Homo sapiens: one gene and its partner. The protein of the gene in region 2 interacts with the protein of the main gene of each other region in a pairwise test. Each region holds a gene or a part of one and is shown on either strand. Other genes may lie near its edges. The genes, in order: HTR6 and NF1.

The links.
Region 1: the proteins of NF1 (region 2) and HTR6 come close enough for resonance energy transfer, tested with the Homo sapiens proteins (one study listed by BioGRID).

The regions. Positions count from the first base shown.
Region 1 is NC_000001.11:19,667,263-19,679,778, forward strand, and holds part of HTR6 (5-hydroxytryptamine receptor 6), read left to right. Parts: intron 1-11,304; coding exon 11,305-11,463; intron 11,464-11,656; coding exon 11,657-12,106; 3' UTR 12,107-12,516. UniProt on the Homo sapiens protein: G-protein coupled receptor for 5-hydroxytryptamine (serotonin), a biogenic hormone that functions as a neurotransmitter, a hormone and a mitogen. Also has a high affinity for tricyclic psychotropic drugs.
Region 2 is NC_000017.11:31,335,384-31,342,976, forward strand, and holds part of NF1 (neurofibromin), read left to right. Parts: intron 1-949; coding exon 950-1,090; intron 1,091-1,251; coding exon 1,252-1,531; intron 1,532-1,984; coding exon 1,985-2,199; intron 2,200-2,435; coding exon 2,436-2,497; intron 2,498-2,641; coding exon 2,642-2,756; intron 2,757-3,320; coding exon 3,321-3,422; intron 3,423-5,121; coding exon 5,122-5,262; intron 5,263-7,593. UniProt on the Homo sapiens protein: Stimulates the GTPase activity of Ras. NF1 shows greater affinity for Ras GAP, but lower specific activity. May be a regulator of Ras activity.

The DNA of each region.
Region 1 (12,516 bases), on a different chromosome or scaffold from region 2:
CCTATCTGCAGGCCCATCTGCACTCTCCATCCCTGTTATTCTCCATAAGAACAAGTCATAAAAATGACTTGTTCATTTTGCCTCCCTGACTTGAATATAAGCTCCAGGAGGGTCACACATATTGAGATCAGTTTTTTTGCTTTTTTTTTTGTTTTTGTTTTTGTTTTTTTTGAGACGGAGTCTCGCTCTGTTGCCCAGGCTGGAGGGCAGTGGTGCGATCTTGGCTCACTGCAACCTCTGCCTCATGGGTTTAAGCGATTCTTCTGCCTCAGCCTCCTGAGTAGCTGGGATTACAGGCACCCACCACTATACCAGGCTAACTTTTGTATTTTTGGTAGAGATGGGGTTTCACCATATTGGCCAGGTTGGTCTTGAACTCCTGATCGAGGTCAGTTTTGATCCCCACTGTGCATAGTAGGTCCCATCTTGTTTCAGTGCCTGGGAATGGGGTAGGTGCTCTTAGCTCAAGGCCTTGCATTGTCTATAAGTGAGTGCCTGCTCTTGCCATCCAGGCCACAGTGCACCTGACTCCTATTGACCCCCTGGAGGGGTGGGTGTGTAGACCGACCAGGCCTGAGACCCAGTGACTTAGGTCGCAGGTCTTGAGGAAAGTCCCAGCTGGGCTCTTTTGGTGTAGCCCTGAGTGGTGAAAGCTCTAGGAGGGTGGGGGTTGCATTGGAGGTCACTGGGCACATGGGGACTTGGCAGAGGGGTGAAAGGCTAACACCCTCCTTGGCAGTCCCCCAGACAAGCTTGCCTGTCCCACCCAGGTGGGTGAGGCCCAAAGTTGCCCCTGCCTATCACCTGGGGTGGGGGCAGGGCCCCACATGGACTGGGAGTCCTGGCTGCCGCCCAGCTCCTTCTCCCTATCCCTGCTCCCTGTAGAACATTCTTGAGTCTTGGCAGGTGGCTGGGACTCTGACTTGCTTCTTCAGGGGTGGGATGGCTGCCTTAGGCCATATACCCTGGGTTCTTGCTTTTTGTTGTTGTTATTGTTGTTTTTTAAGAGACAGGGTCTTGCTCTGTCACCCAGGCTGGAGGGCTGGAATGTAGTGGCGTGATTATAGCTCACTGCAGCTTAGAATTGATCATAGCTCATTCCAGCCTGAAGAGCTGGTATGCACTGGCCCGATCATAACTCACTGAACTCTTGGGCTCAAGCGATCCTCCTGTCTTGGCCTCCCAAAGTGCTAGGGTTACAGGCTTCCCTGGGTTCTTGAAAAGGAGTGTTTCACAAGCTTCAGGCATTCAAGAACTGCCTGCGGATATCTTCCTTAATGCCTCTTCCACCACCACCTCCACACCTTAAGCCACTTAATTCACATGCACTTGGCATTTTATTTATTTATTTATTAGACACAGGGTCTCACTATATTGCCCAGGCTGGCCTCGAGCTCCCACTTCAGCCTCCCGAGTAGCTGGAATTGCAGGTGCATGCCCCCGTGCCTGGCATTCTTGACATTTTCTTTAAATCATCTCTTTTATATTTTTACTTCCACAAATTTGTGTAGAAAGAAAACTTCGTATCTCCTCTAGAAATGGAAAATCTGTATCCTTTGCCATAAATAGAAGGTGATCACAAACACCACTTCAGTGAAACTGAAGAAGCTCCAGCCCTATCACTGAAATGCAGCTTGGTGTGGTTGAGGTGATGAGCCTAGGGCCTGCTTTCTCTTTGTAGCGTGCTAGAAGGTATTACAAACATGGTAGCATCAACGTGGGACTTTCTCTTGACGCACCTAGAAGAGCTGGAAGACAGCTGTAATGGGCTGACGTGCTCACTCTGTGATTCACTCATTTTATGGGGTGTCCCTTTACCATCTAAAATCATCTCCATTCCCACAGTTCAGGAAGCTCTGCTCTCGTGACTAAGGATGTGAGAAGTTGGCTGGTCTGGGTGAGGTTGGGGCGGGAGAGATCAGGATTCCTAGTTGCAGCGGTGCCAGTACCACACAGATTTTCTTTCCATGAATCTCGCTGGCTGGTACTAGGATTGAACCTGAGTCTGTGGTCTTGGAACCTGGGCAGGAGTCTCCCAGGTGCTAACAGCTGCAGCCCCACAATCTGTGAGCACTCACTCTGTACCAGGCACTGAGCTAAACTTATTAATTCCCCAAACACCCAATGAGTCAAGTACTACCAGCACCCCTGTTAGACAGGTGGGGAAACTGAGGCTCAGAGCGAGAGGTGACTTGCCCAAGATTGCACAGTTGGTAAGTGAGGTTTAAGCTCGGATCTGGCTGGTGCCATCGCCCTGTGCTGGTGTGCTGCCTGTGGGCAGTGATGCTCTTGAAATGCTTTGCTCGGGGACCCCACACCTTGCCCCTTTTCTTCTCTGTGCCTTCTGGTCTTCTCTGTTGGGTCCTCCTGATCCGCCTGAGCCATGGCATCCCTAGTCCTCAGTCCTCGGAGCATCTCGTCCTTTTTCCACATTTGCCCCGTTAGTGACCTCATCTTGTCTCGTAACTGAAAATACCACCCACACGCTGATGACTTCCTACCTGGGCTGCTTACAGGCACGTGCTGCCACGCCCAGCTAATTTTTGTATTTTTAGTAGAGACAGGGTTTCACCATGTTGGCCAGGCTGGTCTCGAACTCCTGACCTTACGTGATCTGCTAGCCTCGGCCTCCCAAAGTGCTGGGATTACAGGCGTGAGCCACTGCGCCTGGCCCTGACTTCCTGATTCCGCTCTTCCTCCCTTTCAACCTTCCGCAGTGGCCCCAATGATCCCCTTTACAATGCAGTTCCTGCTGCATCATTCCTCTGCTCTGGCAGCCTTGTGTCTCACATCACCTGGCCCTCTGACCCTATCTGGCCTCCTCTCCTTCTATAATCCTGCTTGTTTCTTCTCTTTCAGCCATACTGGCCTCCTTGCTGTTCCTTGAACACACCAAGCCCATTCTGCCTCACTTGCGGTTCCTTCTGCTTGGAGTGCCCTTTCTTCAGGTCTCCACCCTGTTCTCCCACTAATTTCCATCATTTCCTTCCAGCCTCTGTTGAATTGCCTCCCCTAATCCCTCTCTCAAGAGTAGCACCTCTCACCCTCCCCAGGTCCTCTCCAGTCCTCATTTCCTAAGTTATTTCTCTCAGCAGCACCTCCTACCCCCTGACGTGTTCTATACCTACCCATTTTTATTTATTTACTGTTTATTTCCTTCTTCTAGAATTTAGGCCTATGAGGGTGGGGAACTTGTTTTTCTGCCTTTTTTTTTTTTTTTGAGACAGAGTCTCACTTTCTCGCCCAGGCTGGAGTGCAGTGGCGTGATCTTGGCCCACTGCAACCTCCGCTTCCCAGGTTCAAGCAATTCTCCTGCCTCAGCCTCCGGAGTAGCTGGGCTATAGGTGCACATCGCCACACCGGGCTAATTTTTTGTATTTTAGTAGAGATGGGGTTTCACTGTGTTGCCCAGGCTGGTCTTGAAACCCTGAGCTCAGGCAATCCACCCGCCTTGGCTTTCCAAAGTGCTAGGATTACAGGCGTGAGCTACCATGCCTGGCCTGTCTTTCTGTTTTCCCCCATGGTCCCAGGAATTAGGGGCACCTGGCACATCATGGGTGCTCAGTATGTATTGATGGAAGGAATGCAGTGTACACAGTGCTTCAGGGAGCCTGGTATTCCAGCCCTGTTTGTGCGGTTGCCTGTTTTCTCATGCCTTTCAGAGTCACTTCTTGAGTGTCATGATCCTGAACTTTTTATCGTGTGAATTCATTTGCTTGGTGACATGTATTGACACCTGCTTTGCACAGCAGCTGTTCTAGGCTGTGTATGTAGTGGTGAACGAGACCAACAGTGCCTGCCCTCTTGAAATCTGTTCTAGTTAGGAGTACAGACATTAATCATCAAACTGTACCACGATGAGGATTATGGAGCTTATAGGAGGGATGCTTCACCCAGCAAACATTCAAAATCTATTATTCACTGTGTATGTTTGAAGATGAAAGCAAAGCACTCACACCAAGCCCTAAAGTGAAAGGCTGGAGGGGTCTTCATGGGTTGGTTAGGCCAGCGCCTTACTTCTAAGGCAGAGTGACTCAGGGGCCTCTCAAGCCAGAAATGTGTCTGTTCTAATCCCCCCGCTTTCTGGAAAGCCCATTCTCTTGGTTTGAACGTGACGTGTGCAAATTCTGCCTCTGTTCCTGCTTTCAAATCCACTCGGCTCCTTAAGTAAGCCTCCTGCAGGCCGTTTTCCTGATTGCCTGGTGAACGGCCTGCACTTTGGGAAAATGCATCTGAGAAATTGCATTGGCCCTCCTGGGTCACCGCCTCTTTCTTCCCACCAGAGCTGGCCTGGAGGTGGAGGCCCCCTCAATGTTTGGACCTAAAGGAAGTGATGAGAATGAATCAGATGTGGGTGTCTTGGACCCCTTCCCTTTTCCTGTGCCCAGCCCCACTTAGCCTTGGCTTCCTGCCCCATTCCACTCTCTAGCTTCCCTGCAGAGGGAAAGGAGCTGGGCATAGGTCTCGAGGCCCCAGTTCCTCTGGGGTCAGAACATGGGAGCTGGTCAGCCTTGAGCATTTCATCCCCTCTCCATATGTCTATTTATGGAAATGGGCTTTTAAAAGGCCACTGGTTGGCTTAGTGATTTCCACTAGGTCTTCCCACCACCTCAGGGCTGGGAGGAAGGGGTCCTGCTTAGCACTGTGGCTGGGAGTGTGGGCTGGGGATGGAGGAAGAGCCGTGGGGCAGAGTGAGGAGCTACCAGGGCAGGGGAGTGTGTGTGTTGGGAGCAGGGTGGAAGGTGGGGGCCTGGATGTGGGTGGCACTGAGCCATCCTTGGGAGATTGTGGAGGGTCCAGGGTGTTAGGGGCAGTTTCAGAGATGCAGCATGGGCCACTGGCTTGAGGGAGAGCCCAGCAGGAGAGGCCCAGCCTCCTCCTCTTCCTGGCAGGATTTCTGGGTCTCTGTGGTCCATAACCTCATCCCATCTCTACACCTCACCTTCCTCCCCACTCCCATCCATCCTTCTCTCCTTCAGTTCCCATGTCTTCCTTCTGTGTGCCCCGTCTTCCCCTCCCCCTTCTCCTGTCCCATCAATTTCTCCCGCTTTTCCTCCTCCCCCTCCTTTTTTCACCCTCTCTCACCCAACTAAGCGTCATTCTGTCTTAGTGATCCATCTTCCCTTCCATCTCTGTCTTTCCTCCTCCTCAGAGGAGGAGGCTGTGATCACAGAAATATCTGTGAGGGGGAGGAGGGGGCCGAGCCAGGGAGAGGCTGGCAGAGTGACACTGCCGAGCATGGCAGGCTTGGCTGCTGCTCAGAGCCAGGCAGCCTGGTGCAGCCAGGGCTGGAGCAGGAGCTTGGGGGTCTGGCTGGTTAGGGTTCAAGCCCTGCCTCTTTTGCCTCATAGCTGGACGATCTTGGGCAAGGCATTTTACCTCCTTATGCTCCAGGGGTCATGACATCTATCACACAAGTCTGTTTGAAGAGTCAATTAGATAATATACATAAAATACCAGGCACATAGTAAGTGCTCAACAAATTTCAGCTAGGCAGTGACTCACAACTGTAATCCCAACACTTTGGGAGGCCAAGGCAGGAGGATTCTTTGAAGCTAGGAGTTCGAGACCAGCCTGGGCAACATAGCGAGCTCCTGTCTCTAAAAATATATATAAAAAATTAGCCAGGCCTGGTGGCACATACCTTTAGTTACAGCTATTCGAAGAGGCTGAGGTGAGAGGATTGCTTGAGCCCAGGCAACAGAGCAAGACCCCATCTTTAAAACAACAACAATAGTTGTTCGTGCCTCTCTTTTCCTGTTGTTGGTAAAATATGTTTCTGGGGAGCTCACCACCTTGACCCTTTCTAGGGAAAAACATCACTGCTGTCACCAGCACCATCACCATCATTATCAAACAGCTGAGCCAGAGACTAATAATAATGACAACAATAGCTAACACTTCTATGGGACTTCCTATGTGCTGGCACTGTTCTAACTTTCAGTGTATTATTTTATTTTATCCTTATTATAATCCTATGAGGTAGATGCTATTTTAGTGCCATTTTACAGAACAGAAAGTGGAAGCATAGATGAAGTAACTTGCTTAAGGTCACTCCACTAGTTTGTAACAGAGCCAGGATTTGAAACCAGGCAGTCTGGCTCCAGAGTCTGTCTTGTAACTCTCACACTATGATCAGATGATGGTAACAAAATTTAATTGTGGGCTGGGCGTGGTGGCTCACGCCTGTAATCCCAGCACTTTGGGAGGCCGAGGTGGGTGGATCACCTGAGATCGGGAGTTTGAGACTAACATGGAGAAACCCCATCTCTACTAAGGTACAAAATTAGATGGGCATGGTGGTGCACACCTGTAGTCCCAGCTACTTGGGAGGCTGAGGCAGGAGAATCGCTTGAACCCGGGAGGCAGAGGTTGTGGTGAGCCGAGATCGCGCCATTGCACTCCAGCCTGGGCAACAAGAGCGAGACTTCGTCTCAAAAAATAAATAAATAAATAAATAAAATTAATTGCACAAAGGAATACATAAATACACTTTAAAAATTCAACAATAGGGATGAAGGAAAAGACCTCCAAATTCCAGCTAATCACCTTTCACTCCCAGGGACATGCATCAATTTAGGATATGTCCTTCTAGGTCTTTTTTTTTTTTTTTTTTTCTGTTAGGACAGAGTGTCACTCTGTCACCCAGGCTGGAGTGCAGTGGTACAACCACGGCTCACTGCAGCCTTGACCTCTTCTGACTCAGGTGATCCTCCCACGTCAACCTCCGGAGTAGCTGGGGCTACAGACGCACATCACCATGCCTGGCTAATTTTTGTATTTTTTGTAGAGATGGGGTTTCACCATGCTGCCCAGGCTGGTCTTGAACTCCTGGACTCAAGCAATCCACCTGCCTCGGCCTCCCAAAGTGCTGGGATTACAGGTGTGAGCCACTGCACCTAGCCCTTCCGGGTCATTTTCTATGTGCTTATGTATTTATACAGGTACTTAAAGAAACTTGGTGCTTTGTGTTGGATATTGTTTTTTAAACAAATAGGATCATGCTGTATCTATTACTTTGCAACCTGCTATTATAATTTAATAATCATGGAGATCTTTTCATTTGATTGATTCATTCTTTTAAAACATCTGTGTAGTATTCTGTAGTGGGAATTCACCGTGGTTTATTTAAGCCACTCTTCTCTTTTTTTTTTTTTTTTTTGAGACAAACTCTCACTCTGTCACCCAGGCTGGAGTGTGGTGGTGTGATCTCGGCTCACTGCAGCCTCCACCTCCTGGGTTCAAGTGATTCTCCTGCCTCAGCCTCCTGAGTAGTGGGACTACAGGCATGCACCACCACACCTGGCTAATTTTTTTATTTTTAGCAGAGACAGGGTTTTGCCATGTTGGCCAGGCTGGTCTCGAACTACTGACCTCAAGTGATCTGCCCACCTTGGCCTCCCAAAGGGCTGAGATTATAGGCGTGAGCCACTGTGCCCAGCCTAAACCACTCTTCTTTTGATGGACATTAAGGCTGTTTCCAATTTTTTCCTATCACAAGTAGTGCTGTGGGACACATTCTTGGATATGTGAAGCGTGCAGACATGAATGTAGGTGTTGGCTGGAAGCTGTATGTGTGATTGTTGGCTGGAAGGGCCCTGGATTGTCCTTCAGGAAGCTGCCCTCTGACACTGATACAGAAGGGAGATGCAAACGACAGGACATGGCCCCAAGGGGCTGCGAGGTGCTTATGGGGGAGAGAGAATCCAGAAGGGTGATGCCAGCATCAGCCAGATGCCGGGGTGTGGACTAGTGACAGCCATTGGCTTCTGCTCCATGAGGGCCTCTTGCTGACAGTGGTGGGGTTTCTGTAACCCCACCTGACTGGGCCCATGGATGCCGTCTCCAAAGGTGGAAGCAGCTTGGTGAAGTGGGCAGAGTGGTGTTCCTGAGGCCAGAAATGATGGAATCCCTAACTCAACTCTTAACTGCTGTGTGACTTCTGGCAAGTCATTTTGCCTCTCCGAGCCTCAGTTGTCTCATCTGCAAAATGGGGATGACAATGCCTACCTCTCATAAAGACTGAATGACCTAATGACTATCAAATGCTGATGTGTAGTAAGTGCTCGAGAAATGGGGATGATAATGCTGATTTGTTCAGGGCCACTCAGGTTTTGGTTGGAGGCCTTGTACTGGAACAGTGTGACCTTGGGAAGGGTAGAGTGTCCTCTACCCTTTCTGAGCCTCAGTTTCCTTCTCTCTTTCCTCTTCCCTGTGTTCTTGAGTCAACTCTCTGGAAAGCAGAGGAGAAAGAAAAACCTGGAGTTGTTCCCAGGGAGACTAGAAAGGGAATCTCAGTTCATCTTCACCCCATTCTCTGGAGCTCCTTCCCCCAATGATTGACCTGAGATATTCCCCCTAGTGCCTCAGTTTCCCCCATGCCCTAGAGCTGTGATAAGATCAGGGCTACCTCCTCTCCCCTGCCCTCCTCAGGTCACTAAGGGTCAGAGCGATGCCTGGATGAGACAGTGTCTCATCCCTCTCCATGCCGTCTATTCCCATTGATGGCAGCAATTTGAAGGTGTGGCAGGTCTTAGGAGATTCTTTTGGGGAAGCAGGAGCCTCTTCCTCCAGGCTGACCATGGTGTGGTCACAAAAGCCATATAGAGTCCACTCTGGAGGAGAGAAAACTAGAAGAGGAGAGAGGAGAGTAAAACCCTCTTTTACTCCCTTGCTAACTTGGAATGACTTTGGAGCAGACTCGTGTATGATGGGGTGGAGTCGGAGGAGAGCATCCTCTAGTCATAGCATCTGAGCCGCAGCGTGGTGACTCAGAGCATTTGTCTTGGTGTCTGTGCTGCTTTGGGGAGGCCAGAGCTGCTGGCAGAAGGACAGGCTCCCCAACAGTGCTCAAAATCACCCCAACCTCACAACACATATCACTGAAACAGCAACATGGCTACCAGGTATTTAGCACCTACTCAACGTCAGACTCTGTGCATGCATTTATTATCCATAGCTTCACAGCGACGCCGTAAGCTGAGTATCATTTCTCCCATTTTGCAGATGTGGAAACAGAGGCTCTCTCAAGATCACAGAGCGAGTAAGTGGTAGAGGCCACTTTGATTTGAAGCCAGATCACCTGTCTTAAAAGCCCAGGTTTTGCCTCTGTACAATGCTGTCTCACCAAGACAGAAGGGAGAAACCAAGGCCTCTGTTGTGAATTTGTATAACCTTGATATTTGTACAACCAGATTTCATGTGAAGAAACACGTTGAGGGGTGGGGATTACGATGTGCTTCGTCTCCCTGCCCCAGCAACCTCCTTGCCATTTCAGAATTAGAATTCCAGCTTCTATGAAAAGACCGCGTGTAGTTGGGGTTTCAGCACCATGGACAAGACACCAACTCTGGAGGCCTAGAAAGAGCCGGGGCTGGAGGAGAGGGCATGCGCAGCAGAGTGGGGTGGGGTGTTGGCTTTGGTGCTCCCTGGAGTTGACACATCTTGGCTTTGCCTCCTCCGCCTTTCCATCTGCGGAAGGTTGCCTGGGAATCTGGCTCTGCTCCTGCCTCCTTCTGACCTCATCTCCCCATATCCAACCCACCTCTGGCCTCGAGAACTAAGCAGGGCTCTCACGCAATTTAGGAACTGGACAAATCCCAGTGCCGGGAAAATCCCTGGCTGTCAAAGCCCAGATGTATTCACAGACCGCAAACACACCCTTTGCGTAGCTCATGATGAATTGTGCACACCACTGCCCACGGGCATTAAATAGTAAATAGAGGTGGGCCTAATTTTGTGTAAATCTAATATATGAAAATCCACGTTGATTACAGAAACACATGGTTTAGAGGAGGGCTTCACATCCCAGCTTTCACGGACTCCTAGGGGTTTCTGGTGGAAACCTAGAGACTTCAAGGTCATCTCTGAACCTTCTGGAAGTGTGAAACGTTGTTTTCTTGTCTGTGTGTGTGTGTGTAAAAATTTACAAGCCTTTTATTTTCTGGGGAGAGGTTTGTGTGTGTGTGTGTGTGTGTGTGAGATTTCATTAGATTTTCAAAAGGCTCATGAAGTTTAACAAGTGAAGAGCACTGCTGAGCTAAAGAATGATCCAGCTCAGAGAGCCCTTTGGGACTGTGGGGGCCAGTTTGCAAAGTCAAATTCTAACCTCCCCGGGCCCATGCCTTCCTTTCAGTGGCTGCTGGGAAGTAGCTTCTTTCTCTTCCTCCCTCCTACCCCTTCCTCCTCTTCCTGTCCACTTTTGAGAATGGAGATGCCTGCCAGTTCGCAGTATAATTGAGCTATAAAATGCCAAGGTAACCAGCATCCTTAGGAGCCTATTAAGAGATTTAGCTGCAAACATTGGCTCTGTGCACACATTCTCAAAAAAGCCTTTCTATTTTGTGGGGCTCAAGAGTAATTGCCCAGGCAAGACTATTGCTCCCAAATGTGAAGACAATCCACATACAAAGCAATTGCCAAGCTCTGGACAGTAACAGGTCCTCTTTTTCAAGTACTGTTCAATTGCAATTGATTTTGTGTGTGTCTGTGTGTGTGACAGAGTCTCGCTCTGTCACCCAGGCTTGGAGTGCAGTGATGTGAGCTTGGCACACTGCAACCTCCACCTCCTGGGTTCAAGCAATTCTCCTGCCTCAGTCTCCTGAGTAGCTGGGATTACAGGTGCCTGCCACCACGCCTGGCTAATTTTTGTATTTTTAGTAGAGGCAAGGTTTCACCCTGTTGGCCAGGCTGGTCTCAAACTCCTGACCTCAAGTGATCTGCCTGCCTCGGCCTCCCAAAGTGCTGGGATTACAGGCGTGAGCCACTGTGCCCAGTCAATTGCAATTGATTTCTGTAGCGCTAAAGGCTTTGGAAGGTGCTGGGCTCATTGTAATGTGTGTGTTGGCCTGTGTCACGTATTGTCTTTGCAGGGATGGTTGTTCTTCTGAACCATCTGATTTGTGTTTCAGGTATTGCTCTGTCTCACTGCACTTCCTAGAGCTCCTTATGAAATTCTGGGTCAGGGTCAGGGCTCAGTGTGGGACCAGGATCAGAGCTCAGTCTAGGTCCACAGTTGAGGCTTGGTTTGAGAACTTGGTTATGTAGGGCTTTATGGTAGGTGTCAGGGTTCAGTGGGGGGCCAAGGTCAGGGCTTGGTTTATTGCTGATGTCAGGGCTTGGCCTGGAGTCAGGGTCAGGGCTCAGTCTAGGACTCTAGTTGGGACTCAGTCAAGGAACAGGGCCCAGTTTAATCCTGGCACTAGGGCTCAGTCTAGAATTAGGATTGAAGCTCAGTCTGTGGCTAGGATCAGGGTCAGACGGGGGCCCTTTCTCAACGGACTCATGTGGCCTTCCTTTCCGCAGGTGCCCAGGACCCCACGCCCAGGGGTGGAGTCTGCTGACAGCAGGCGTCTAGCCACGAAGCACAGCAGGAAGGCCCTGAAGGCCAGCCTGACGCTGGGCATCCTGCTGGGCATGTTCTTTGTGACCTGGTTGCCCTTCTTTGTGGCCAACATAGTCCAGGTAATGCCACGGCAGGGGGCAGGTGAGTCCGGCCCTTGCAGGAGAGGCCCTGGATCCCAGCCCAGGCATGGGGACAGGGGAGGGTAGGCTGCCTCTCGTGGTGCGTGTGTGTGTGTGTCTGCTCCATACATGCTGGGAAGGGTGGCCTGGGTCCCTGCCCTGGGACCAGGCATGATGCATCCCCTCCCCCCAGGCCGTGTGCGACTGCATCTCCCCAGGCCTCTTCGATGTCCTCACATGGCTGGGTTACTGTAACAGCACCATGAACCCCATCATCTACCCACTCTTCATGCGGGACTTCAAGCGGGCGCTGGGCAGGTTCCTGCCATGTCCACGCTGTCCCCGGGAGCGCCAGGCCAGCCTGGCCTCGCCATCACTGCGCACCTCTCACAGCGGCCCCCGGCCCGGCCTTAGCCTACAGCAGGTGCTGCCGCTGCCCCTGCCGCCGGACTCAGATTCGGACTCAGACGCAGGCTCAGGCGGCTCCTCGGGCCTGCGGCTCACGGCCCAGCTGCTGCTTCCTGGCGAGGCCACCCAGGACCCCCCGCTGCCCACCAGGGCCGCTGCCGCCGTCAATTTCTTCAACATCGACCCCGCGGAGCCCGAGCTGCGGCCGCATCCACTTGGCATCCCCACGAACTGACCCGGGCTTGGGGCTGGCCAATGGGGAGCTGGATTGAGCAGAACCCAGACCCTGAGTCCTTGGGCCAGCTCTTGGCTAAGACCAGGAGGCTGCAAGTCTCCTAGAAGCCCTCTGAGCTCCAGAGGGGTGCGCAGAGCTGACCCCCTGCTGCCATCTCCAGGCCCCTTACCTGCAGGGATCATAGCTGACTCAGATATCGTGTTCTGAAGGATGCTCCACTGTTGAGTGTAACTTGTGTGTGCAGAGGATGGGCTGGAGGACTCTGGATGTTGGGGAGAAGGACCTCTTGGTTCAGGTTAGGATGAAAACAATCATGACCTTTGCCCATTCTGTCAGGCTGGACGGGAGGGAATGCCCCCACCTGCAGGCATGGATTAATGCTGGGCTGAACCCCTTGCTACTCACAGTGT
Region 2 (7,593 bases):
TTTATTCTAGTTCTCTACATTCCAAAGGTGTCAGTAGATGTTTCTTCTTATTGATGCTATTTGGGACATCTGCTTTCATTTATAGTTCTACATAAGAATGCCAATATTAAAATAGGATATAATGTAAATTTTATTTTTATCTGACAAGAATTAGGCATATCATTTCTTCAAAGTAATCATTTAAGGAAATAATGCCCTCACTCAAACACTGCTGCTCCTCCTCCAAATAATTAGAAATAACCTTGGAGCCAGTGTTGCAGCCCTAGAAAACATCCTGGTACTTAATGTCATTTCCTATATTTTATTTTTTTTTGAGACTGAGTCTCGCTCTGTCACCCAGGCTGGAGTGCAGTGGTACAGTCTCGGCTCATTGCAACCTCTGCCTCCCAGGCTCAAGTGACCCTTCCACCTCAGCCTCCCAAGTAGCTGGGCCTACAGGTGCACACCAACACACCTGGCTAATTTTTGTATTTTTTTTTTTTTTTTTTTTTAGAGATAGGGTTTTGCCATGTTGCCCAGGCTGGTCTTGAACTCCTGGCCTCAAGCAATCCGCCCGCCTCAGCCTCCCCAAGTGCTGGGATTACAAGCGTGAGCCACTGCACCCAGCTCTGTATTTTCAAATTACTATTTTATATTGATGCTACATTACTGTCTTAGAAAAGCATAGAGATACTTTGCAAGTGACTGAAGATAGTATTGATAGAGATTTAAAATTTTTGAATACCAATCTCTTAATCTCTGAAGGAGTCAAATGAATATACTCATCCTTTACTGGATATTTTATAATAAATTGTATTTACTGACAGGCCTGTAAATAAAATCTAGTATTTTTGAGGCCTCAGGTAAAATAGAATTTTCATATTGATTAGGCTGTTCCAATGAATATTTTTTAATTAAAAATTAAATTGGTAGAGTGATTAAAAACATGTTATTTTCCTTCTTCAACTAGATTACAGATCTGCTTGATGTTGTACTAGACAGTTTCATCAAAACCAGTGCAACAGGTGGCTTGGGATCAATAAAAGCTGAGGTGATGGCAGATACTGCTGTAGCTTTGGCTTCTGGAAATGTGAAATTGGTTTCAAGCAAGGTAATCACTTTTCTTTTGCCTTCTGTACTATAGCATATCTGTTTTATCATCAGGAGGTTTTTTGTTTTGTAATTACTTTTAAATTAAACTGAACTTTTTTGTGCTAAAACTTTGAGTCCCATGTTTTTTTTTTTAAAAAAAAAAATCCTGCTTCTTTACAGGTTATTGGAAGGATGTGCAAAATAATTGACAAGACATGCTTATCTCCAACTCCTACTTTAGAACAACATCTTATGTGGGATGATATTGCTATTTTAGCACGCTACATGCTGATGCTGTCCTTCAACAATTCCCTTGATGTGGCAGCTCATCTTCCCTACCTCTTCCACGTTGTTACTTTCTTAGTAGCCACAGGTCCGCTCTCCCTTAGAGCTTCCACACATGGACTGGTCATTAATATCATTCACTCTCTGTGTACTTGTTCACAGCTTCATTTTAGTGGTAAGTTCTAGGAAAGGAATTTGTGTTTACCAGTTCCTTTCTCCATTTTACTTCACCTGATCAATATAGATTATCTTATTTATGTTTGTGCTCTAACACCAAGTTGCTAATTTAAGCCTCCAGTAATGACATGAAATATTACCAAAAAGAAAATAAATTACTTCCATTCCATATCAAGCTATAGTAAAGATTTTCTATGCATACTTGTCATGTAGAGTTATCCCATAAGCGGAATACTCAGTGCCAGTTGACCATGTTCAGTTACCAGCACTAATTTGTAGATAAATGAAGCAAGGAGCATTAATACAATGTATCTAGAGGTTTGATTTAGGGAACATGATTATGTAATTTTTATATGGTATTCAAATTTTCTAAATTCAAAATGAAACATGGAACTTTAGAAATTAAAAAGTAATATTTTCTGTCTTTACTTGTTCCTTTATTCTCTTACAGAAGAGACCAAGCAAGTTTTGAGACTCAGTCTGACAGAGTTCTCATTACCCAAATTTTACTTGCTGTTTGGCATTAGCAAAGTCAAGTCAGCTGCTGTCATTGCCTTCCGTTCCAGTTACCGGGACAGGTCATTCTCTCCTGGCTCCTATGAGAGAGAGACTTTTGCTTTGACATCCTTGGAAACAGTCACAGAAGCTTTGTTGGAGATCATGGAGGTATAGAAGCCAAAATGATAAGAAACTAAGTTAAAATCTTTTTTTAAAAATATGTTAATACTATATAGAAGAAATATTGGTTTATTGTGCTATTTTGTACTTAATGCTTAAATAAAAACACTTGCATGGACTGTGTTATTGGTAACAGGTCACTTAATGACATCATAATAAACATTATTTAAACAGTTCTAAAAACATTTATGTACAATATGTATTCAGAGTATCCCCTTTTTTAGGCATGCATGAGAGATATTCCAACGTGCAAGTGGCTGGACCAGTGGACAGAACTAGCTCAAAGGTATGTCCTAAATTAAATATAAGTTGTAAAAATATGCATATTGTTGAAAATACAGCTATTACTGTATGATCAATGTTATAATTTATTATTTAGTATATATAAACACAAAGGTTTTTATAAGTTCTGTGGATCTTTTAATTGCAGATTTGCATTCCAATATAATCCATCCCTGCAACCAAGAGCTCTTGTTGTCTTTGGGTGTATTAGCAAACGAGTGTCTCATGGGCAGATAAAGCAGATAATCCGTATTCTTAGCAAGGTACCTGTTCCGCCCTCACTTCTCCCAAATATTTATGGTTCTCAAGTTGTAAAGCATATCTTTCATTTTTCTAAAAGACGTTTAAATTTGAGGTCAATGAAATATCTTATATGTTACTTATTAAGCCTTTAAAATGTATTTTGATTATTTATTGTAATTCTTTGAAGAAGTCTTCTCTAAAGAAGCTGTCTTTATATGTAAACTCTGATTACTTCATTAAGGAAGATGTCTTTAAAATAAAATATGTTGCCTCTTTTGCTAAGCAGGTACACTTAGTATTTTACCAGTTTTCAAAGCATTTAATTATATGGTAAGACTATAGCCTTGCATAAAATTATTTAATTTGTAATTACTATAATAATGTCTGACTCTTATAATGTAGAAATGTCAAAAAATAAGAAAACAAATGTACATTAAGCTAGCTACCAAGATCACCATAGCATGAGAAATCATTCTAGCATTTATTAAATAAGTAAATGTTCCTGAATTCATTCCGAGATTCAGTTTAGGAGTTAATGTTTTATTTCAATGAAAGTAAAATAAAAAATTCTGTTTTCCTAAAAGGCACTTGAGAGTTGCTTAAAAGGACCTGACACTTACAACAGTCAAGTTCTGATAGAAGCTACAGTAATAGCACTAACCAAATTACAGCCACTTCTTAATAAGGTAATTACTGTATAGAAAATGAGTGCATTCATTTTGGGTATCAGTGTTGAATGTTACTTTCTTTCAAAGAGTTTAGAAAATAAGATGAATTGAGAATAAGTTATAAAGAAAAAACTATAGTTAAAGTAGAACCTCTTAAAGTTTAGTTGTTTGAAGTAGTCATATTAGAAGAAGAGTAAGTATGGATAGTATGTTCTCAAGCGCTTGTAAGTTTTTGGTCTCATCAGTGCTAAAGGAAAGATAGGTATATATTCTTAATTATTTTATCTTATAACTATTAATTATCTGCTATTGCCAAGTACTGTTTTAGGCGCTAGAGATAGAGTACTAACAAAGCCCATAAAACTCACTGCCTTCATGGAGCTTACTTTCTGGGGTGGGTGTGGAGGTTGGGGAGTGAATGGATAATGAAGTAAACAAAATACGTAGTATGTTAGTGATTATTACTATGGAGAAATTAAAGCTGGGAGAAGTATACTTGATCGTCATAAGAGTTTGGGTGCCAAATGAAGATTATATTTAAAAGGAGTAAAATGAAGTGGCCACTGTTTTAGGATGGTCTGACCTTATCCCATTTTTATATTTAAGATATCTGGAAATCATGTTTTTGTATTAATAAAATGAAAAAGATTCGATAATGGCATGGTATTACCATCCAGTTCTAAAGTGGTTTAATTCTGTGATTTGAGTACAAAGGTATGCCAGACTTGGGAGAAATAACAGAGAAATAATACCTGTTATATTCCTGGTTTGTCTACAAGCATTCTAATTTTGTATTATACAAAATGGTTCTCTGGTCCCCATCTTCTAAGTGAAAATGAGCTCAGAAGGGCTAAATAACTTGCCCAAAGTCACATACCTAATAAAAGAACCATGATTCTAATGTGATACTATTTGACTCTAAAGTCCATGTATTTTCCCTAATATCACAGTGCTAAGTAAAGATTGCCAGTAATAAATACTTTTAATTCAGAGCAGCAAGAGATTACCATACTGGTTAAGAGTGACAAGAAGTTGAAAAGACAGTTTAAAATAAAGTTAAAGGGAAACATAGGAGTTAATGTAGGTAGAGAGAAAGGGAGAGAGCTGCACAAGAATGCCAGGACAATGGAGGGAAGGTGGGTAGAACATTCTAGTTGTAATGGAGAAGCTTTTCAAAGGAATCGAGAGAGGGAAAGTTGTGAGGACTGGATAGACCTCATCTCACATTCAGCATTGTTCAAAAGAGTTTGGAAATGTACAGTTTTTAAGCAGACAAGTCATACGATGAAAGCAGGACTTAGCTCCTGGTGGTAGTGTGCACAGTGGATTGGAGTAGGGAGAAACTGAAGTAAAAAGAATCCACCTTTATAATAAAGAAGGTTGGCATGTGGTAATGTCATTAGCAATAAGAAAGAAATGACAAAAGATACAAAAGAGACTACTCTAGAAGAATCAACAAACCTTGGTGACTGGATTTAGAAATCAAAGAACAGGGAGAAGTCAAAGGAGGTGCTAAGTAACGTTCTCAGTCCAGCTAACAGTGTCTTTAGTTATACATATGGAAAAGTGAAGAGCTTACTCATATCTTTATCTTCCCCAAAAGAGAAAACATGGGTAATTTAGGAAGATAAGCTGCTTTATTTTTAACTGCAGTGTGTTTTGAAAGAGACTATGTCATGATTCATCTTACTAGCCTCAAACATATCTTCTTTGCCAGGACTCGCCTCTGCACAAAGCCCTCTTTTGGGTAGCTGTGGCTGTGCTGCAGCTTGATGAGGTCAACTTGTATTCAGCAGGTACCGCACTTCTTGAACAAAACCTGCATACTTTAGATAGTCTCCGTATATTCAATGACAAGGTAAGCAAACTTTGCCTTGAGGTTCCTAGATTACTCAAATTTAGTACTCTTCCATCTTTTCTTGTTGCTATTCTTTTAAAATCACAAGAAGTCCATAACTTAAGTAGGAATTTGTATAATGTAACTTATTGTGAGTATATTTCCTTACCAGCTCATAAAGAACTATGTAAACTTGAATGCATATTTTTTACATAAAAATAGCAAAAAAAAAAAAACAAAAAAAAAACAGTACTGGCCTAATACTAGTAGAATTACAGAATAAGGATAAATAATACATGATCATCCTTACAGAATGAGCATAAACAATACATGGTAATAATATTAATAGCTACCATGCCAGGCCGTATGCTAAACACTATACATTTATTTTTAATTTTCATAACCTTAAGGTAAAGGTTAGCATTCTCTGCCCCCCATTTCACACGTGAAGAAATAATCTAAAAGTAATCTTAGTTTTACTTAATAATGCCACTTAATGAAAAATACGTATAATTCATAGTAGATAAGGAAGTTGGAGAGTCTAAAGGAAACTTTTGGGTACTTAATTTTACTAGTTTTTTTATTCTGTCTAATCTTACTTTAAAATATACCATTAGTGGCCAGGAGTGGTGGCTCATACCTGTAGTCCCAGCACTTTGGGAGGCCAAGACAGGTGGATCAGTTGAGCTCAGGAGTTAGAGAACAGCCTGGGCAACTTGCAAAACCCCATCTCTACAAAAAAGGCAAAAATTAGCTAGGCATGGTGGCATGCACCTACAATCCCAGCTACTCGGGAGGTGAGGTAGGAGGATTGCTTGAGCCTGGGAGGCAGAGGTTGCAGTGAGCTGAGATCACGCCACTGCACTCCAGCTTGGGCAACAGAGCAAGACCCTGTCTCCAAAAAAAAGTGTGTATACATATATTACATACACACATATATATGTAATGTATGTGTATATATATATATAAAGTGTGTGTGTGTGTGTGTGTGTGTGTACACACATAAAATATGTAAAATCCAACTCCAATTAAGGTTAATAAATGTTAGGAGGGGTGCTAATGGGGTGTGTGTGTGTGTGTGCACGTGTGCATGTGTGTGTGTATATATATATGAACATGGGCAAATTACTTCTTAGTTCCTTTCTAATTTGTAAAATGGAGATCTAATTGGGGTTGGATTTTAGTTCATAGAGAATAGAGGAGAGAATAAAATAGTATGAAATTACGTCCCTTTTGTCTTTGGATAAAAATGGGAAGGGTCTAGGAGAAAAGAGGGGAATGTTTTTAAAAGAATGTGTATATACAGTGAGATTTGCTTGAAGTGAAATTAACTGAACTGTGGGTACAAAGAACAGGATTATGGTTTTAAGTGTAAAAAGATACTTGGTCTAAACATTATTAGTTCAGTCTACCAGATGTAGTGTGAACCTGGAACAGATATGGGTCTGAAAAATATAGAAGCAAAATTTTAGAGGTAAGAGGTCTTATGGAGTTTATTAATCAGACCTCCATTTTGCAAATTAGAAAGGAACTAAGAAGTTAAGTAACTTGCCCATGCTTGTACATCTGTTTTGGGACTAGAACCCCTCTGTCCTAATTCTCATTGCCGTTTTTCTAAAACTGTTTTGGGACAGTGGTGGTCAGCGATATCTAGTTGTTGGCTATTTATATGTTAAGAATATTTGCAAATTGGCCGGGTGCAATGGCGCATGTTTGTAATTCCAGCACTCTGGGAGGCCGAGTTGGGAGGATCACTTGAGGTTAGGAGTTCGAGACCAGCCTGGCCAACATGGTGACACCCTGTCTCTACTAAAAATACAAAAATTAGCCAGGGTGGCACATGTTTGTAACTCCAGCGACCTGGGAGGCTGAGGTGGGAAGATCTCTTGAACCCAGGAGGTTGCAGTGAGCCAAGGTGGTGCCACTGCACTCCAGCCTGGGCGACAGAGTAAGACTCCATCTCAAAAAAAGAATATTTGCAAATGGAGCATTGCAAATGGGGCATCTGCCTCGGTATTTTCATCTTCAAAACAGCCCAGTAGCGGGAGCTAATATTGATTCTAGTGCCCTTTGGATGCTAGGCATCAGAGTTAATAAGCATGTTAAAAGTCACCGGGATGTAAATTGACAGTCATTTATTTTGTATTGTAAATAAAAGTGATTTCATCTTCCACCATCTTCTTATTTATATGCTTGACTGTCTTGCACCAGTTAATTTGTAGTAGCTAAAATGTTCTGTGGTTTTCTGCAGTCAACTGAAAATAATTTCTCTCAAATTGAAAGGATTACTTATCTTGTCATACTATTGAACACAAAATTAAGTGAGCCTTTAAAGAAAGCTACTGTGTGAAC